Regions from separate parts of the Homo sapiens genome. Here region 2 is linked to region 1. Evidence: fine-mapped expression QTL. A gene starts in region 1. The other region holds a variant in brackets. All regions are shown on one strand. Distances are between the middles of the regions. Region 1 holds the start of CLTA (clathrin light chain A). Region 2 has its middle 16 kb from the start of MSMP.

Evidence for each region. PIP is the estimated chance that this variant, and not a neighbour inherited with it, causes the effect.
Region 2: its variant is the best candidate, but not a certain one, in a credible set for the expression of CLTA in CD8 T cells (CEDAR, PIP 0.72).

Annotation. Positions count from the first base shown.
Region 1 is chr9:36,185,495-36,195,707 of GRCh38, forward strand. It overlaps CLTA (clathrin light chain A), which reads left to right and starts at 5,427. Exons shown (of 5, transcript NM_001833.4): 1 at 5,427-5,779. The coding sequence starts at 5,563. RefSeq lists enhancers at 5,062-5,687, 5,403-5,622.
Region 2 is chr9:35,765,074-35,775,286 of GRCh38, forward strand. It overlaps a transcript of RGP1 not described here. Among named protein-coding and RNA genes, the nearest start is that of MSMP, 16 kb to the left of the region's middle. The variant T/C (reference allele first, on the strand shown) is at 5,467.

The DNA of each region.
Region 1 (10,213 bases):
CATGTATACATATATGTATATATTTGTGCATGCATGTATATGCATATACATACATGTATATATGTATTATACATGTATATATACACATTCACAGAGATATACACATTACTATGGACTATGTATTTGTGTCCCCTCAGAACTTCATGTTGAAGCCCTAACCCCAAGTGTGGCTATATTTGGAGTAGAGGCCTCTAAGGAACTAATTAAGTTAAATAAGGTAATATGGGGTAGAGCCTAGATCCAATATGATTAGTGCCCTTATAAGAGACATAAGAGAAAAGGCCATGTGAGGACAGAGTGAAGGTGGCCATCTGCAAACCAAGAAGAGAGCCCTCACTAGAACCAAATCAGCTGGAACCTTAATCTTGAACTTCTAACCTCTAGTACAGTGAGAAAATTAATTTCTGCTGTTTAAGCCACCCAATCCATGGTGTTTTGTTCCCCAGCATATGGATATATATACATGTATACATATTATGCATCTTCTATTGATTCTGTTTCTCTGGAGAACCCTGACTAGAACAATACAGTCCTTCTAGGTCTTTCTTGGCCATCATCTATTGAGTTTCCCCTTGGTGGTTCTAAACCTCTCCTCTCTTTTCTACTGGTTCTCACTTTACTGGAGCAATTGAGTCCCTCAGAGTTGTCCTCAGCCTTGTCTCTGCCTCTAAAATCCTCCCTCCTTAGCCCATCCTTCCCACCACCTCTCCTTCTTCTATGACTTCAACCTCTATCTTCGGCATACAAATGTATTCAAGCATTCAAGTCTCTCTTACCTAAACATCACCCCAACCTTAGAGCCCTCTCTAGCCACAGCTCTCCCTCCTTTCCTCCTTTCCCCTTTCCTTTTTTTTTTTTGAGATGGAGTCTCACTCTGTACCCAGGCAGGAGTGCAGTGGGATGATCTCAGCTCACTGCAACCTCCACCTCCCAGGTTCAAGCAATTCTCATGCCTCAGCCTCTCCAATAGCCGGGACTACAGGCACATGCCACCATGTCCGGCTAATTTTTATATTTTTAGTAGAGGTGAGTTTTTGCCATGTTGGCCAGGCTGATCTTAAACTCCTGGCCTCAAGTGATCTGCCCGCCTCAGCCTCCCAAAGTGCTGGGATTATAGGCATGAGCCACCATGCCCGGCCCTCATTGCAAACCTTTTTTTTTTTTTTTTTTTTTTTTTTGAGACGGAGTTTCACTCTTGTTGCCCAGACTGGAGTGCAATGGCGTGATCTCGGCTCACCGCAAACCTCCGCCTCCTGGGTTCAAGTGATTCTCCTGCCTCAGCCTCCCGAGTTAGCTGGGATTACAGGCATGTGCCACCACACCCAGCTAATTTTGTATTTTTAGTAGAGACGGGGTTTCTTTATGTTGGTCAGGCTGGTCTCGAACCCCTGACCTCAGATGATCCACCCTCCTCGGCCTCCCAAAGTGTTGGGATTACAGGTGTGAGCCACGGTGCCCGGCTGCAAAGTTTTCTAATGTCTTCTACATTTAAATTTGCCCTCACTTCTCATTCTATATTAGGCAAAATTCTTTTTTTTTTTTTTTTTTTTTTGAGACAGAGTCTCACACTGTTGCCCAGGCTGGAGTGCAGCAGCGTGATCTCGGCTCACTGCAACCTCCGCCTCCTGGGTTCAAGCGATTCTCCTACCTCAGCCTCCTGAGTAGCTGGAATTACAGGTGCACACTACCATGCCTGGCTAATTTTTGTATTTTTAGTGGAGACGGGGTCTCACAATGTTGTCCAAGCTGGTCTCGAACTCCTGACCTCAAATGGTCCACCCATCTTGGCCTCCCAAAGTGCTGGGATTATAGGCGTGAGCCACTGTGCCTGGCCTGGATTAGGCAGAATTCTTTATGACAGAAACACAACTCAAAATTGTCTTAAGGGGAAAAAAAATAGAATTTATTTGTTCACAGAGCCAAAAAGTACAGAAGTAGATCTTTCACTTCAAGCATGGCTGAATCCAGGTCCTCAATGATACCAACAGGAAGTTGTCTTTCTCACTCTCTGCATTCCTCCATGTTGACCTCATTCTCACTCTCAATCTCTCCTCTTGATGACAAGATGACCACAAGAAGCTCTAAGCTTACACTTTGCCTGCTTGTCAGCTCCAGCAGAAAGAGTTAGCTCTTTCCCTAAGATTCTAGTAACAGTCCTGGAATTGAGCCTCATGAGCCTGGTTTGACTCACTTGTCCATTCCCAATCATTTGGGCAGGGAATGGGATGTTCTAATTGGCCAGGCCTGGGTCACATGGGGGTGGTCCACTCAATCCAAACCACAAAACTGAAAATGAGGAAGAATGGTTCCCCAAAGGAATATTGGAGTGCTGGTATCAGAACAAAGGGAATTGGATGTAGGCAGGCAGAACCAACAGATGTCCACTATGCTTCCATCCCTCAACCTAGTGCAAACTGATTTCCACTCCTGGCATCCACTGACATCTCTCTCACCAAGGTGACCAGGGAACTTGATGGCCAAGAGCATCTGCTCAGCTCTCATTCTTCACCTTTCTGCTAGTCACTCCTTCCTTCTGCAAACTCTGCTTGACTTCCATCACCCAGCTCTAACTGAACCCTCTCCAATCTCTCTGACCCACCCCTCTACCTCCTTCACATATAGCCATCCTCCAAGATTTAGGCCTCAGTCCTTCCCTCTCTAGTCTCCATCTGTGGTCCCACTCTCTCCTATACACACTTCTGTTGGGAGCCGAAAAGGCCAAAGGGATCGTGACCAACTCAGCATTCCACTGGAGGCTATATGATCAAACAGCAAACTGTTTATCATGAATGTAGGATGTGAGCAAACACACTGCACCTGCCACCAAAAGGTTTGCTGATGGACATCACTCCTTGGTGCAGGGCTCCTTGAAGTTATCTAAGAAATCTAGCACCTATTGTTCAAAAGATGCAGTCTCACAAGCCTGCTGTGAACCAAACCTCTAACTGACAATTACCGACAATCACCCCCCCTTTCTCGCTCTCTTTTGCCTACGAAATACGGAGGGATGTGTAAAACTCAGGGCCCTTGTCCACTAGAGGCAAAGTGCCCCCTGACCCCTTCTTCCAAATATACTCTTTTGTCTTGTCTTTTATTCCCATTGCCCACCCACCTTTGTTCAGTCCACCAGGGATCATGGCAGGCTACACACTTCTAGTTCCTGGACATCTTCTAAATCTTCTGTCTCCCAGCAATCACCTGGGCTCCCCCAAAGCCCTCAAACTAATGGTTCTGGCAATTTCACAGATTCATGATTTATGACCCCATCCTTTCCCCTTGCCTTTTTCCCAGCCCGTACCTCTGGTCGGTCACCAAGTTAGTCACTTCCCTACTGGGACCCGCTTTCCCATCAACGCTCCCCACTCAGCTCCATACCTCTGCCCTGCCCAGACCTTCATCATGTCACTCCTGACATCTCTGCCCACAGCCTCTGCCCCATCCATCCTGCAACCAGGGACCCGATTAACCTCCTAAGCAGCAGTTGATCAAAACATTCCTTTATCTGAAACCTTCTATGGTTCCTTATTGCCATTAAGATTCCTTAACATGGAATGCTTTCAGGGCTCCAGAATCTGTCCCCAGATTTTCCTTCAATTATTCATCTTGCTGAGCTCTTCAGACTCCAACTAATTTACTCACTGTCCCCAAAACATGCCAAACATTTTCCCACCTCTGAACTTTTACATGACACTAACATTAGACCCTCATTATTGACTCTTCTAAACGTTCCCCATATTTCAAAACTGAGCTCCAAGCCACCTCTGTGAAATCATCCGTAAACACATCAGCTATTCCTCCAATTTTGAGTGTATACTTGTTTGTTGCTTTTGCATAATATGTAATGCCTCCTCTAGCAAGGGAATCACAGGAGAGTTTCTCCCAAAGTCATGCATTTCCCCAAAAAGAATGCTGTCTGTTCCGGAGCTACTACTGTTGTGAGCAACTAAAAGTTGTCTTCCTTGGGCTCTCTCATAGTAGTCCCTGCCCCTCTTTTCCTCATGAGACTATGTCAAGGCTAATGTGAAAATACTTCATGCACTGTTGCCAATGTATGTTAGGGATGAGCATAAAACAACAGACAAGGGGAAACAGAATCAATTGCAGACCCTAACATTTTAACTTTCTTAAATGTTTTTCTTCAACACTTTCCTATGGTTCATACTTTAAATGACTTTAAAATTATGCTTTAAGTAAATATATGCTTTAAATAATTTTTATTTGCTTCATTTTTCCTTCATAGCTATCCCTTTTTTTTTGTCATCAAAGATATGTGCGTTTTTTATAAAAACACTTTCTTGTCCCCTGCTGACTACCTCTGGAAGCTTCTTGTTGACCTCTGGTTTTTTGGTTTCTTTTTTTGGCTTTTCATTTCTTAGGGTGGTGGTGGTGGTAGTGAAGGAGAGGGGTCTTCTGGTGGCCCCTGCATAAGCACTCCCCCTCAACATGAGCATGATTAACTGGAACCACTGTTATTTCTGTGGTGTAGACAAAATGAGCCATGTAGCTATTAACATCTCCCTGATTTAAAAAGAAACACGGAACTTTCTTTTTCCTGCTGTCCTTAGGGAGGAAAGGTGTAAATATAAGAGACTGTAGCTAGTATCTTGGAAGTCCCCAGGAGACAGGCGTTTCCTCTTGGTCACTGACTCTCTGGGTCACTGACGCTCCTTGAACAGCAGGGCCACCGTGTCTCCCTTTGAAGCAAGTGATCCTTAAGGAATTTTCCAGGTTTAGTAACTTCTGTCTAGCTCCGAAAAGACGTAATGGCTGCAAAAGTGCTTCGTTGAAGAAGATAAGATATATTCATTTTTAAATAAAAATACTTATGGGCGAGAAAAATCGGAGTGGACTGAATCAATTACAGTAAATCTATGGGCTCTAAGGGAGCAAATAATCCAGGCTGGCTGAAAGAATTAAATATTTTAAATTTATAAAGCCAGGGACCCTCAAATCCATAAAAGGATTCAATCTTCTTCTTCTTTTTTTTTAGGATTCAATCTTCTAATAATCCCGGGAGGGGGCGCAAGAGCAGGATTCTTGTTTCTATTTTACGAATGAGGAAACTGAGGTTCAGAAAGCCTAAGTGGCATGCCTCTTCAGTAATCGGCCAATCGTCGCTGCCCTAACTTCACCTCACCTCCCAGTGCAGCACTAGAGTCCCCTCAGGGGTGGCCGTCCCTGGTCAGTCCAGCTCCAGCAGACGGGGTGGGTAGGACGCTCCCTATCAGGCAGCACTTCCGCCTCCCGGGGCCCGCGCAGCTCACCTCCCTCACCTCCCGCCCTACCCCAGTCACGAGTTGTTTTAGGGGGACCGCCCCTCCACTTGCTGATTGGGTAGCTCCTGAACCATTGTTGTCCTCTGATTGGTTGTTCCCTTTTCGGCTCTGCAACACCGCCTAGACCGACCGGATACACGGGTAGGGCTTCCGCTTTACCCGTCTCCCTCCTGGCGCTTGTCCTCCTCTCCCAGTCGGCACCACAGCGGTGGCTGCCGGGCGTGGTGTCGGTGGGTCGGTTGGTTTTTGTCTCACCGTTGGTGTCCGTGCCGTTCAGTTGCCCGCCATGGCTGAGCTGGATCCGTTCGGCGCCCCTGCCGGCGCCCCTGGCGGTCCCGCGCTGGGGAACGGAGTGGCCGGCGCCGGCGAAGAAGACCCGGCTGCGGCCTTCTTGGCGCAGCAAGAGAGCGAGATTGCGGGCATCGAGAACGACGAGGCCTTCGCCATCCTGGACGGCGGCGCCCCCGGGCCCCAGCCGCACGGCGAGCCGCCGGGGGGTCCGGGTGAGAGTGCGGGCGCGTTTGGGGCGAGAGGACTTGTCTGGAAACTCGGTCCACAGTGGGTCCGAGAGCTTCTGTGTGACTCGTGCTCCTTGCTGAATTAGGAGGTTAGGGAGCAGTGCAAACAGGAAACGAGACCCTGGCCCGGTCTTTCAGAAACCTAGGCTCGAGAAGCCTGTTCGGTTCTCAGCATGTTTGAGTGCTTCTGGGCGCGGGCGGAGCGAGAAAGCAAGTGTAGGGTGGCAGGCTCCGGAGCCGGAAGAAGCCCGTTCAATTCAGCAACTTTTCATTAAGCATTTGCTGTGCCTTTAGTCCGGTCTCTGAAGCAACCGCATTGGCGCAGTTTTTCCAGACTTATAAGCTTATAAGTCTGAGCCGAGCACAGAACTCGTTATTAGAAAAGGAGGGCGGAAAAAAATAAGAATGGAAATATCGTTTTTGAGAGATACAAACAAAAGTAGCAATGCAGTTCAGCATTTAAGCACTTAAGGTGTACAGAGTGTTGGATTACGAGGAGGAAGGAGGGAGTAGGGAACTCGAAAGATGATCTAGGTCTGGAGAAAGAACTGCCAAGCGCGGTAGGAGTTTGCTATCGTTGAGCGATTGATTTACAGCTAGGACTTCTGGAGCTCTTCCTCTGGGAACAGCTTTGGTAGGCAATATTGCCTAAGCAGAACCCAAGATTAGCCTAAACCAATCAGGGAGGGATGAAGAGGTGAATAGAGAATGTTCTCAGCCAAACTCAAGTAAAAATGGGGCAGGTAGGATGGCAGTTTGACCTTTGGATGCCTTAACCTGTGTGTGATGCTTAGGATCATGAGTGGAAAAGACCTACTTAATAATACAAAGAAGTAGGAAATTTAGCTAGAAGAAATGAAATACGGCTTTTCATTCACTTAAAAAATTCCAACTAAGGGAGAATAGGGCACTACTGGGGCATATAGGAGTAGTGTCTACCCTAAATTCAAACCTTAAGGAGCCAGGTAGGTAACATATACGAGAGAAGCTGGCTTGACATGAGACAGTAGAAGTGTTGGAGACTGAGGCTTTGCTGCACTATAGTAGTGCTCTGTGTAAAGGCATTCAGATCCAGCAGTCTCAAGTTACTGTGCCAGCCAGGCGGAACCTTTTGATGGATGGGTTGGTGGGTGTGCTGCTAGTTTGCAGCCTCTTGAGTTTTTGACTGCACCATGTTGCTTCCTAAACAAATCAGTCCCCCAATAAGAACTTAGTGGGAACATGTAATATGCCCGAATATGCAACTTTATAGCGGGTAGGTTGGACTAAACTAGGCTGTGATTGTGAGATGAAGTTGGCCTTAAGTGATTAGGGGATATTTTCATTGGGTGGTCTCTAACATTTGTCTGAGAATTTTAAAATTGACTTCTTAGACCCTTAGTTTAACCTTCCTCATTTAATAGAAGAGAAGCAATCCTAGAGAGAAACGACTTGCTTAAAAAAGCACGAGTTAATAGCTGAGCCCCAAGTCTACCCACTCTTAGAATATACCACATTCTGTTGCAGTGTTTAGTTGTTTTAGCAGGGGTGTAGTGCGATAACAGACAGGCAGCTGTGGCTGTCCCAGGTGGAACAGATTTGGGAGAAGCAGAACCCAAGATCTGTAGTTGGAAGATTGTCCTGATTCAAGGACAGTGTTACCCTTACTGTTTTATCTCCACTGCCTAGCAGTGTGTCTGACATGTAGTAGATGCTCACGTTTGACAAAGAAATGGGCAAAAATGTCAGATCCAAGGGTCCTATGTAGAACTGACAGATCTTGGTGACGGGCAGTTAGGGAAGGTAAAAGGGAGAGAATAGAGTTGGATGCTCGGTCCTTTGTGCATCAAGCCTTCGGCAAAGGGAAGGAAAGAAATGGTTGCTGACTTAGTTCCTAGGAGGGACTTTCTTAGTGAACTAAGCATTTGGTGACTTAAAGCCAGATTCCTGACAGTGTAATTGAAGTTGGTAATATGCAGTGGTCAGCATTTCCTTTGGAGTTTAGAGAACTGATTGGACACTTTTTCTCTCTTAGTTTTCTTTTTCCTTCTTTTTTTTTTTTTTTAAAGATATGCTCTAGTGGTTAAGATTCTATGCTATCCTAAACTGCTTGAGTGTGAGTTTAGCTTTGTGATCTCAGACAATGTATATAACTACCACCACTGCCCGGCCTCAGTTTTCTCCTTTGTAAAAGTTGCATAATATAATTTATAATGCTATGTGGCATCTTTAGGATTACATTAAAGAGTGTCTATAAAGTGCTTACAGTTATATTAAGTATCTAGTGAATTCCAGCTACTATTAGTGGGAGAAAGGAGTTACAAGGCCTTTAGGCTTTGAAGTGTACTGAGTAAATTGAGGTTTTAGGCGGGAGCTCTCTTTCTGATGTATTATACAGAGATATATAGGCAGTCAGCTATGACAGATTGATGAGAGGAAAATAAACTGGCCCCAGCCTTGCGGAAAGCGTCTATGGAGGATGGGCACAGGCAAAAACCAGAGGGGTTAGGGCTAAGCCTTGGATGACTCCTTTGGTTGTTAAGAGATCCAGAAAAGAGACGTAGGTTTAGAGGCAGGAAGAAACCAGCTGGGTGAAGTGATATTGAGGTAACCAGCTGTGGGGGATATTGAGGAAGAACAGGTGGTCATGAAGGAGGCAGCACAAGTGGAGCTGTTGAAAAGCTCTCAATCATGAGGGCTGAGTCGGGGAAGAGAACAGGAGAGACAAGCCACAGAGAGAGTACAGCAGTAAGGCACTATTATGGTGTTTTGTTGTTTTTGAGACAGTCGCTCTGTCACCCAGGCTGGAGTGCAGTGGTGCGATCTCGGTTCACTGCAACCTCCGCCTCCTGGGTTCAAGCAGTTATCCTGCCTCAGCCTCCCGAGTAGCTGGGATTACAGGCGCCCACCACCGTGCCCAGCTAACTTTTTGTATTTTTAGTAGAGACGGGGTTTCACCATGTTGGCCAGACTGGTCTGAAACTCCTGACCTCAGGTGAGCCACCCGCCTTGGCCTCCCAAAGTGCTGGAATTACAGGTGTGAACCACCGCACCCGGTGACAAGTTATTTCTTGTAGGAGAAGAAAGAGACATGGGTGAATTAAAGGGAAGCTTTCTGGAGAAGTAATTTTATTGGTAGCAGTGGTGGAGGGAAGTTTAGGGAAATCTCATGCATGATAGTTAATTGTACTGCACATTTGCTGTATACCAGGTACACTTTCAGATCCCAGCAGTAGCTCCACAGGTTAAGTGGTAGTGTCATATTTCAGATGAGAATGGATCGGTGTGGAAGTTGAGCAGTGTCACTAAGGTAGCAAGGTAATAAATGGCTCAAGTGCAGCTTCAAACGTAGGTCTGCTTGACTTCAAATGTTTCTGGAATGTGGAAAGTTGAAAGTGGGTTTGGGACAGTCTTTCACTTTTGAAAACTGGCCCTTTTTCTGTCTGGAGTTCCTGAAAGGCCCTAGAAAGTTTCCTTCTGAAGCATCGTGTTGCTTAGTTTAGTTGTTGTAGTAAGTCAAGGCCCTACATGTCCTTTCTGCATGTTTCCACAGCAACAGACGATCCCTTGGCTTGAGCCAGTTGATTCTTGTAAGAATGTTAGTGCAGTAATACAGTAACTAATAAAGAGGAAAGCAGATGCCAGTGGGTCTGGAGGAGCCTTCAGACAGCATGTGATTTTTAAGGAGATGTGGGATGAGGATTGCTTCTTGTTTTGTATATGGAGTAGTGATCAAAGTCTCTCATATTCCAGCCCAGGGCTGGACTATATTAGTGGATAGTTGGTATGTCAATTGTACTATATTAACCATAATGTAGGCCTGGCCAGACTAGCCACTGTAGGATCTAGGATTTAAAACTATCTCACTCTTCTGTCTTACACAAAAATAAATTCCAGGTGGATTAAAGAGAGACATTTAAAAAGTAAAAGAAGAAAAGTGAGTATTTGTCTATCTCATAATAGGAAAGGCCTTCAGCATAAAAGCAGATACAGAAATCATGAAGAAAAAGTCGATCATGTCTACATACACAAATTAAGTTGTTCCAAGTGTTAAATACCATAAACCAAATCAAAAGAGAAACTAGGGAAAATATTTGACTATTAGAGAGCAAATACTTAGAGATCAAAAAATAGCAGGAAAATAGGCAAACTCAGAAAATTCAGTAAAGAAGAAAATCAGGTGTCGGGTATGTGATTACCTCACTGGAAATAAGATTGGCACAACAAAGCCACCATGAGTTTGTTTTTTTTTTCCATTATCAAATTAGCAAAAATTTTAAAACATGATCAAGCACAGTCCCTAGTATCAGGGAAGGTCTAAGAAATGGGGCACTTGTGCTGCTAGTAGTAATATAAACTGGTAGACTAATAGGAACAAGTGGGTAGAATTTTAGAAGTCTTTGAAATACATATCCTGGGCCAGGTGCGGTGGCTCACGCC
Region 2 (10,213 bases), 420 kb before region 1:
AGATGGCGCCACTGCACTCCAGCCTGACAACAAAGCAAGACTCTGTCTCAAAAAAAAAAAAAAAAGAAGTCCATTTTTATTGCTGAGCAATAATTCATTGTATGGACATACAGCAGTTTGTTTATTCATTCATCTGATGATGGATATTTGGGCTGTTTTCCACTTTTTTGGAAGCTGCTATGAACACTCACATTTAAGTCTTTGTGGACATATGTTTGCATTTTTTTAAGATAAATGCCTAGAAGTGAAATCTTAGATCCTGTTGTAAGTGAATGTTTTACTTGATAAATAAAAGACTGCCAGTTTGGTGCAGTGGCTCATGCCTGTAATCCCAGCACTTTGGGAGGCCAAAGCAGGCAGACTGCTTGAGTCCAGGAGTTTGAGACCAGCTTGGACAACATGGTGAAACCCCATCTCTACAAAAAATACAAAAATTAGTTGGGTGTGGTGGCCCAGGCCTGTAGTCCCAGCTACTCGGGAAGCTGAGGTGGTAGGATCATCTGAGTGTAGGAGGCGGAGGTTGCAGTGAGCCATGATCTTGCTTCTGCACTCCAGCCTGGGTAACAAAGCATGACCCTGTCTCAAAAAAAAAAAAAAAAGTTACTGATTTATTCATAAAATAAGATAAATTTTTAAAAAAGAGAAGTGCCATACTGTTTTCCAAAGAGTCTGTACCATTTTCCACTTACCAGCATTATATGAGAGTTCCAGTTGCTTTGCATCCTTGTCAGCACTTAGTATTGTCAGTTTCTTCTTTCTTTCTTTTTTTTTTTTTTTATGAGACAGAGTTTCGCTCTGTTGCCCAGGCTGGAGTGCAGTGGCATGATCTCGGCTCACTGCAAACTCCACCTCCTGGGTTCACGCCATTCTCCTGCCTCAGCCTCCTGAGTAGCTGGGACTACAGGTACCCGTCCCCATACCTGGCTAATTTTTTTATTTTTAGTAGAGACGGGGTTTCACCATGTTAGCCAGGATGATCTCGATCTGACCTTGTGATCTGCCCACCTCGGCCTCCCAAAGTGCTGGGATTATAGGCATGAGCCACCGTGCCGGCCTTAGTATTGTCAGTTTCTTAAAAAAAAAAAAAAAAAAAAAAAATCTAGTAGGTGTGTAGTGCTGCCTCATTGTGGTTTTAATTTGCATTTTCCTAATGTTTAATGACATTGAGCATCTTTTTATGTGCTTTCTTGTCACCAGTATCTCATATTTGGTGAAATCTATTCAAAGTATTTGCCCATTTAAAAAACTGGAATGTTTGGCTTCTTGTTACTGAGTTTTAAGAGTTCTTTATATATTCTGGATACAAGTCCTTTGTGAGTATATGAATTAAAAATATTTTCCCCTAATTGGTGGCTTGCCTTTTTATTTTCTTTATAGTGTCTTTTGAGGAGCAGAAGTTTTAAATTTTGGTGAAGTCTAATGTTTTGCTTTTTTCTTGTATGGCTAGTGTTTTTTGTATCCTGCATAAGAAATCTTCCCTTACACCAGGTCACAAAGATTTTTTTCCTACATTTTCTCCTATATCTAAAAGTTTTATGATTTCAGCTTTTACATTTAGGTCTTTTATGTCTATGATCCATTTTGATCGCATGCTTAATTTTGTTCTCACTGCACAAAAGACACAGTAGGAAAGGAAGAATCTGGAATAAAGATGACTGCCTCTTTCAAAAGACAGGTTGTAGAATAGAAATATTAAACTTTTGTTCTGTGTATTATATTATCTTCATCTAATATTGATTAAGTAGTAACTGTTCAGTAGTAAAATATATATAGATTACCTACTCTGAGTCAGGCACTGGAGATACAGTAATGAAAACACTAGACAATGTCCTTGCTCCCTTGGAGTTTATATTTGAGTGGGTGAAATTGTGTTTTTATTATAATGAGCCTCCATTGTATATACAGTAAAGTCAAGAAAAATGTTGTTGCCTCTCTGTGATTTCTCAAAACCTCAGTTGAAGGAAGCATTTTAGATTGTTGGTAATCTTCTTAATATTATTGTATGATAGAGCATGAACCTCTTTCCAAAAAGAGTCACTGATCTGCAGAGAAAAGGGAATCTGGGGCTGCATACGGCCAACTATAATACAATGTGTCATGTGATAGAGCAGTACTGCATGCAGAATCATATCAAATGATCTCATGTTCCTGTTACTGTTGAGGTGTAATGACCAGCCTTAATGCTCTTTTCTTTGGTTTAAGCAAATTGGTTTTTTTTTTTTTTTTTTTTTGCCGAAAGAGTTCATTAATACTACATTTAGAGAACTCTTAGATCTCTTTTCTGATAGCCAGAGGACCAGATACCTTCTATAATTAGCCATTCATGTGTTCCTTAAAATGAGTCATACTATGTGTTAATGATACCACCATTCTTCAAGCCACTTCAAGTATCAAAAATAAGTTCCATTTACTATTAACATTTATAAACTAATACCAATATTAAATAGCCAAATAATAAATAGGGTTAAATCAGAGCAGGATGAGCTCTATGATCTAGTCTTGGATGATGAGTAGGATTTCAGTAGATACAAATAAAGAGGGCAGATTAATTTATATTGATGGATTTGAGGAAAAAGATTACATCAGCAAATACGTTATTCATGGCTTGATTCCTTTATCATCTATCCATAGCAGACATCATTAAATTCATCATGGCATTCTTTCTTGCTGAGCCTGGACATAGCCTGGTAAGACTAGAACTAGATAATAGGAAAAGAAATGTAGACATTAAGTGGACATTTGTTGTTGTTGTTGTTTTGCACTCTGTCACCCAGGCTGGAGTGCAGTGGCACGATCTCAGCTCATTGCAGCCTCCGCCTCCCAGGTTCAAGCGATTCTTGTGCCTCAGCCTGAGTAGCTGGGATTACAGGCGCCCACCATGACACCCAGCTAAGTTTTTGTATTTTTAGTAGAGACAGGGTTTCGCTATGTTGACCAGACTGGTCTCCAACTCCTGATCTCAGGTGATCTGCCCGCCTCAGCCTCCCAAATTGCTGGGGTTATAGGCATGAGCCACTGTGCCTGGCCAGATTTTTTTTTTTTTTCTTTAAGACAAGGTCTGGCTCTGTCGCTCTGATGCAGTGGCTCACTGCATCCTCCCACCTCACCCTCCCAAGTAGCTGGGACCACAAGCATGTGCCACCACTCTTGGCTAATTTTTGTGTTTTTTGTAGAGATGAGGTTTCACCATGATGCCCAGGCTGGTCTTGAACTCCTGAGCTCAAGCGATCCACCCACCTTGGCCTCCCAGAGTGCTGGGATTACAGATGTGAGCCACTGTGCCTGGCCGTGGACAGGTTATTTTGAAAGAGACATCAGTGAGACTTTATGGAGATGTCTGACCCTGGAGGTCAAGATGTGGGGCATTCCCTATGTGCAACAGGGAAGCCCTTGGCACAGAGACTATGAAGGGTTTCTGTTGCATGCATCTGAGGGGTGCAATAGGTATCACAACCACACTCAGAAAAAATAGTGCCAGGGGAAGATGGTGCAATTTATTCTGCCAGAGGGTACCACTCAGGCTATCTCCAGGCTGAGAGAGACCCTGGAGTTATACTAGCACAGAGCTGGACCATGGTTGCCAGCAGAGTAAGCAGCAAACAGGGGCAAAGGAACATTGGCCTGGAGATCTTAAGAAGCTAGAGGAGCACTTCCTCAAGGGTTGCAACTTTTTCCTGCTGCTATGAAGTCCCCTTCCCCTGATATATCCAGATCCATCTCAGGTAGATAAGCAGGAGAGGGGTTGCTATCTGAGAGACTGAGCAGTTTTTATTCAGGAGAGTCTGAGCAGTACCTAAAAAGACATTAAATGATCAGATAGGACTACGTTAAACTGGTTTGGGGGCTTAAGAGGGACAATGTAGGCAACTGTGAAGATGCACAAGACCTTCATGTGAGTAGAGGGTGCCCTCAGCTCACCCACCACTTTCGATAAACTGAGGCAGGACTGAATGTGGAATGAGGCAGGCCTGTTTACTGTGTCCAGGAGGGACTGATTGGGCCCATTTGAGATAAGTTAGGTAGCAAGCGGCCTAGCTGAGCAGGGGGCTAGGTGCACTCAGCTGCAGGGGCACTGCGTGCCCATGTGTACCTGCCTCAGCACCACCAGTGTCACAGCCCTGGCTGCACCCATTGCCAAGGAAGAAAGAACCATGTGGTTGAAACACATCTACTGTACCTGGCCCTGTCAGACTTGGGAGGACAGGTTCTTGTCTTGTTGTCCTTGATGCTGTTTCCATCAGCATCCACCTGTTATCTCTCCTCACCCTGAGGAGCTCAACCCACCCTGATTTTGTCATTCATTTTTTTTCTCATTCGCTCATTCTTTTATTGAGTCTGTTATGCCATGTACTGTGCTAGGCACTGAGGACACAGTATTTTGTAGAGATAAGGGAATAAACACACATGAATACAATGAAGTTTGAGCAATATTAAGCTTCAGAAATATTACTGAGAAAATACAGAGTCTTATTGGAGTACACATATTTGGGAGAACATAGTTTGTAAAGGAAGTAGGAAGGTTTGTGCTGTGATCTAATAATGATTTTGAGGTAATCAGATGAAAAGTCGGAAGAAAGTTTCAGGCAGAAGGAACAACGTGCAAAGATGAGAGAAATTAAAGGAACAAAAGTTCAGTGTGTCTAGAGTGTAGAGGATGAGGAAGAGGGATGTGACGTGAGATGAGGCTGAAGAGAGGCAGGGACCTGACCATGGGGCACCTTGAAATTCAGGATCAGTTGTTTGTATTTCATCCTAAGCACAATGGGAAGCTATTCAAGAGTTTTATGCAGAGGATTGACTTTGCCAGCACTGCATTAAAAAAATTAACTTAAAAATTTTAATGTAGTTCAAATCTGCATGTCTGGTTCATTTCAGCTCCTTCACTGCCAAACCTGGGGGCAGGGACTGCTTCAGTTTCTCCGCCTAAGATTCTTACCAGTACTGCATTTTGAATGTTTTATAGTGTGGGTTGGAGTGGATCAACACTAGATGCTGGGAGACAAGTTAAGGGATTGTTAATTAGTCCAGATGAAGGATGATGGTGGTTTGAACTGCATAGGGTAGAGGTAGTAGGGAAGATAGATTTGGGGCATATTTTGGAGGTATGTCCAGCAAGGCTTAGATGTGGAGAGTAGTGAGGGAGATGGAGAATTCAAGAATAACTGAGGTTTTTGGCTGAGCACCTATGTGGATGATAGTGTCCTTTGCTGAGTAGGAGAACACTGGGTGGGAAGATATTTTGGAGGAAAATCATGTGTCTTGTTTGGATGTTGAGTTCAAAGTTCTTACAAGACCATCAAGTGAAGATATCCTGTGGGCAATTAGGTATATGATTTGAAAGCTGATAGAAATGGACTGGTGATTCATTCTTGGCACATAGAAATTGGTTATTGGAGCAATGGGCATAGGTATTACCATGGAGAGAGAGAGAGAGAGAGAGAGAGAGAGAGAGAGAGAGAGAGAGAG[T/C]TGAGTGGAAAACGAAATCTAGAATAGATCCCTGAGGATCATCAATCAACCCAGGGGCAGGTAGAGAAGGAAGGGTCAGTAAGAGACTGAGAAAGAGCTGCCAGCTGGTTGGAAGAAACCTGGACAGTGTGGTGTCATGGAGGGTGTACCACTACAGTCAGCTGTAGGGGAGTGTTAAGAGTGTTTGGCTGCACTCCTGGAGATGCTTAGGTTACTTATAATAATTGAATGAGTGAGTAGGCTACAGAGGATCAGAGGAGCACACCTGGAGCTCCCAGCCTCCGCTAAGCATCTCCCTAATAAATAGAGCAGCCTTCTGCCTGTCAAATCTGAAGAAAACCTGAACTCCAGGAAGTAGCAGGGGTTCAGAGGAAAGAACAGGTACTCACACAGGCGTATTATATCTTCAGGGTAAACCTTTAACCTGGTGAGGTTTGGTAGGATCAGAGTGAATTTCAGTCTCTGGATCTGAAGCATCCCATTAATTTTGTTGCCCTTTTATCATTTCTAGAAGCTGAACTTAATTTTTTTCTCTGTCTTTGCCTCTATCTTTGCCCCTCTGATTCTCTAGCCCAGTTGATTCTCCTTGGCTCTTGATCTTGGTTTAGTTTGGCTAGCACTCCTTTTCTGAGGAGTAACTTCCGTAACAAATATTTATAGTAACCCCTCTGCTTGGCTGGCAAGTCCCGGAACCAGTGTCCTTACACACTGTCCTAAAAAGCAGTCAGCCCGGAGCACAGCCAGCTTTATTGGCCTAGATATGATTAGATGCTTCCTTTACCCCTTCTGGAGGTGTTAGTGGTTCTGAGCCTTGGAAGTTCTGTTCTCCTTAACCATCTCCTTCTCTCCCGTTTTGCTTTTCTGAAACATATTTATTAGCTAGATGTTAAGGTTAGTAGTTCTACCCTTCAGTGAAGATTGATGAAAAATTAGCCCAAAATTGCTGTCTTCTAATTCCAAAAATCTATAATCTCTATGTTCTGTGAATTGGGTCTGAGGCTAGCTCTTAGCTTATTTCAGGACCTAAATTTAACATACCCTGGGTTTAAGTGGTGGGTTGTAATTTCTATGTAGGAGAAGCTTAAGGGGAGAAATCTGATTGGAAGAGAAGGGAGGCAGTTAGGTTTGCCTTAAAGCTGAGTACACAAGAGTAATCTGGCTGTAATCCAGCTGGCTGGGACTGACTGCCAGAAAAATTAAAAAACAAAGATGTGATTGATAAAAATGTGTACTTTGTTCATGTAAGTGAGTTTTAAAAATGTAGACTCTAAGACCTTTTTTCTCTATCTTCCGTTTGCCAATTATTGCATTTACATAGTTTCTTCCTTCCTTCCCCAAACAAGGTATAACACCATAAACCTGAGAATTTTAGACACATGCTTTGCTCACTTTTTTTCTATTTATGTATTATTTTTATTTGGTTTGCTTTTGGGGGAGGGGAGGCAGGAGTTGCCATTTGTGCCAACAACTCTTTCTCAAATATTCCAAGCAATCTTTTCCTTGGGGAGTTGTACTACACAATTCTATTAATTACTGTTGTGCAATATTGAGATACCTTACATATGTAGCAACAGTGACACATATGCCCACACCCAGTGAAACAAGGTCATTTTCTACTGTCAGTTATATGCATCAAGGTGACAGGTGACGGCATGGTTATGGATTAACTCACCAAGGAAATGAGTGTGGAAAGAAGAATGCAGAAATCTGAGGACTAGAGCCTGGAGATGGGGAGCTTCGAGCTCAGAGGAAGAAGAGGATCTTCATCACGGGGAGACATCAGCTGGATATTGAGATGGAAGGATGACTATGAGTATGAGCTATTATAGAAACCATGGTAAGAGTTTTAAGTAGATGACAGTAACATCAAATGTGACTGATGTGTAACTGGAGGAACTTACTGTCATATGCAAACTAACAACTCCACTGTATTCTTCTTCATCCAGATCATTTGTAAAAATTTTATACTAGAGGCCAGGCGCGGTGGCTCACGGCTGTAATCCCAGCACTTTGGGAGGCCGAGGCAGGCGGATCATGAGGTCAGGGGATCGAGACCATCCTGGCTAACACGGTGAAACCCCATCTCCTAAAAATACAAAAAATTAGCCGGGCGTGGTGGCGGGCGCCTGTAGTTCCAGCTACTCAGGAGGCTGAGGCAGGAGAATGGCGTGAACCTGGGAGGCGGAGCTTGCAGTGAGCCGAGATCGGACCACGGCACTCCAGCCTGGGCAACAGAGCGAGACTCTGTCTCAAAAAAAAAAAAAAAAAAAGTTTTATACTAGACTATTCAACAAATATTTTTTGAGCTGCATACTAACTGTGGTGGGGTTGTATAAATGAGCTATAAAGTTGTGTTTTAAAGTAATATGTCTTCATAAACAAATATGCTGGTAATTTATACATAAAACTCTCAAACTTTACTGGTGTATTTGTTAAGTGGAGACTACAGACCTATTTCAGTGACATTTACAAAAAGTCCTTTGGTATTCTTTTATCCTTGTGGTACCTTAAAAAAACCCATATATAGCTTCTTATTGCAAAAGTAATACATAATTATTGAAAAGTACAGCCAGGCATGGTGGCTCACACCTGTTACCCCAGCACTTTGGGAGGCTGAGTCGGGAGGATCACTTGAGCCCAGGAGTTCAAGACCAGCCTGGGCAATATAGTGAGACCTTGTCTCTACGAAAAATAAAAAACAAATAGCCAGGTGTGGTGGTGAATGCCTATAATCCCAGCTACTCAGGAGGCTGAGGCAGGAGGATTGCTTGAGCCCAGGAGGTTGAGCCTGCAGTGAGCTGAGATCGCACTACTCTGTCAGCCTGGATGACAGAGTAAGAACCTGTCTTAAGTAAAAAGAAAGAAAAGAAAAGAAAAGAAATATATATGTATAAATTCTAACACATACTATTCCTAAAGAGACAGTCACTCTTAACATTTTGATTTATACTGTTCCAGGTTTCCTTTTTCTTTTTTTTTTTGAGACGGAGGCTGCTTTGTCACCCAGGCTGGAATGCAGTGGTGCTATCTTGGCTCACTGCAACCTCTGCCTCCTGGATTCAAGCGATTCTCCTGCCACAGCCTCCCAAGTAGCTGTGACTACAGGCGCATGCCACTAGGCCTGGCTAATTTTTGTGTTTTTAGTAGAGATGGGGTTTCATCATGTTGGCCAGGCTGGTCTCGAACTCCTGACCTCAGATAATCCACCCACCTTGGCCTCCCAAAATGCTGGGATTACAGGCGTGAGCCACCGAGCCCAGCCCCAGGTTTCTTTTTAAAAATTATTTATTTATTTAATTTTTAAAATAAATAAAAGAGATGGGGTCTTGCTATGTTGCCCAGGCTGGTCTTGAACTCCTGAGCTCAAGCAATCCTCCTGCCTTGGACTCCCAGTGTTGGGGTTGCAGGTGTGAGCCACCACACCTGGCCCGTATTATTATTTCTGAAGATCTTTTTATATGTGAAAAAACAATCCATTGTTATTTCAGTTTTATAGCCACTTTAAAAAATGTGTATTGGTGCACAAACTTTATTCTCTGATGATAAATTTCATTAAAACAGTCAAAAATTATTATAAGTTGGTTGAATGAAGTGAATGGTTAATCTGGGTTATTCCGGTTTTCGTTGAATGTACATGGGACTCTGAAGGGGTCATACCCCAGTTCTACCACTGCTGGGTCCTCAGGAGACTCAGCCTCAGCACCTTGCTCCCCCATGGCAGCAAACGCCTCCCTCCCTGAGAGACTGACTGTGCTCAGCTCTGGTCAGGGCAGGCTGCACAGGCCTTTTGCTGGATGACCCGGTAGGCAGACTAAGTGTGTGCCTTTAGGGTCCCAGCAAAGCAGTGGTACTAAATAGATTTGGAGGAAAGGATGTTGCTGTGTTTTTAAAAACATGGAAGTACTTGGCCGGGCGCGGTGGCTCACGCCTGTAATCCCAGCACTTTGGGAGGCTGAGGCGGGTGGATCACGAGGTCAGGAGATAGAGACCATCCTGGCTAACACGGTGAAACCCCGTCTCTACTAAAAATACAAAATAGCCGGGCGTGTTGGCGGGCGCCTGTAGTCCCAGCTACTGGGGAGGCTGAGGCAGGAGAGTGGCGTGAACCCGGGAGGCGGAGCTTGCAGTGAGCCGAGATTGTGCCGCTGCATTCCATCCTGGGCGACAGAGCAAGACTCTGTCTCAAAAACAAAACAAAAAAAAACATGGAAATAGTTACTATGGGGAAATTTGAATTTATTGATTTTATTTTTATTTCTTTTTTGGAGGAGGGGAGTACTATAATCTTTTCAGTGTTTTTGGTTTTTATACAGGTCAATTCCCCTCTTTGACTCATCCCAAATTTTGGTGGGGGGGGCTTCAGTCACATCCTTGTCTTTTTCAGCAGCCTCCTCCCCATATTGTCTCGAGGATTGGGAAGCAGGAAATTTATAATACCCTTTTCTCTCTGTTTTCTCCAAATTCATTTTCTCTCCTGTGTTCCTTTGGGAGAAAAGGGAAATCAGTTCTGTCTCTTCACTCCTCTATATTACTCCATCTGGATGGACCCACACTGATAGCAGTGAACCTTGAACTTGGCAGTTTTGGAGCCAGGGTCTTTGCCCTCAGTGCAGTAAATTCATTTTTTTTTGTTTAGCTGCCAGATTTAGGGTCCAAACAGGAAAACAGAACTCACTCTAAGCATTTAAACCAGAGGGCATTTAATCCAGAGAATTAGCTGGCTGTGAATATGGTGGAAGAGCTGAGA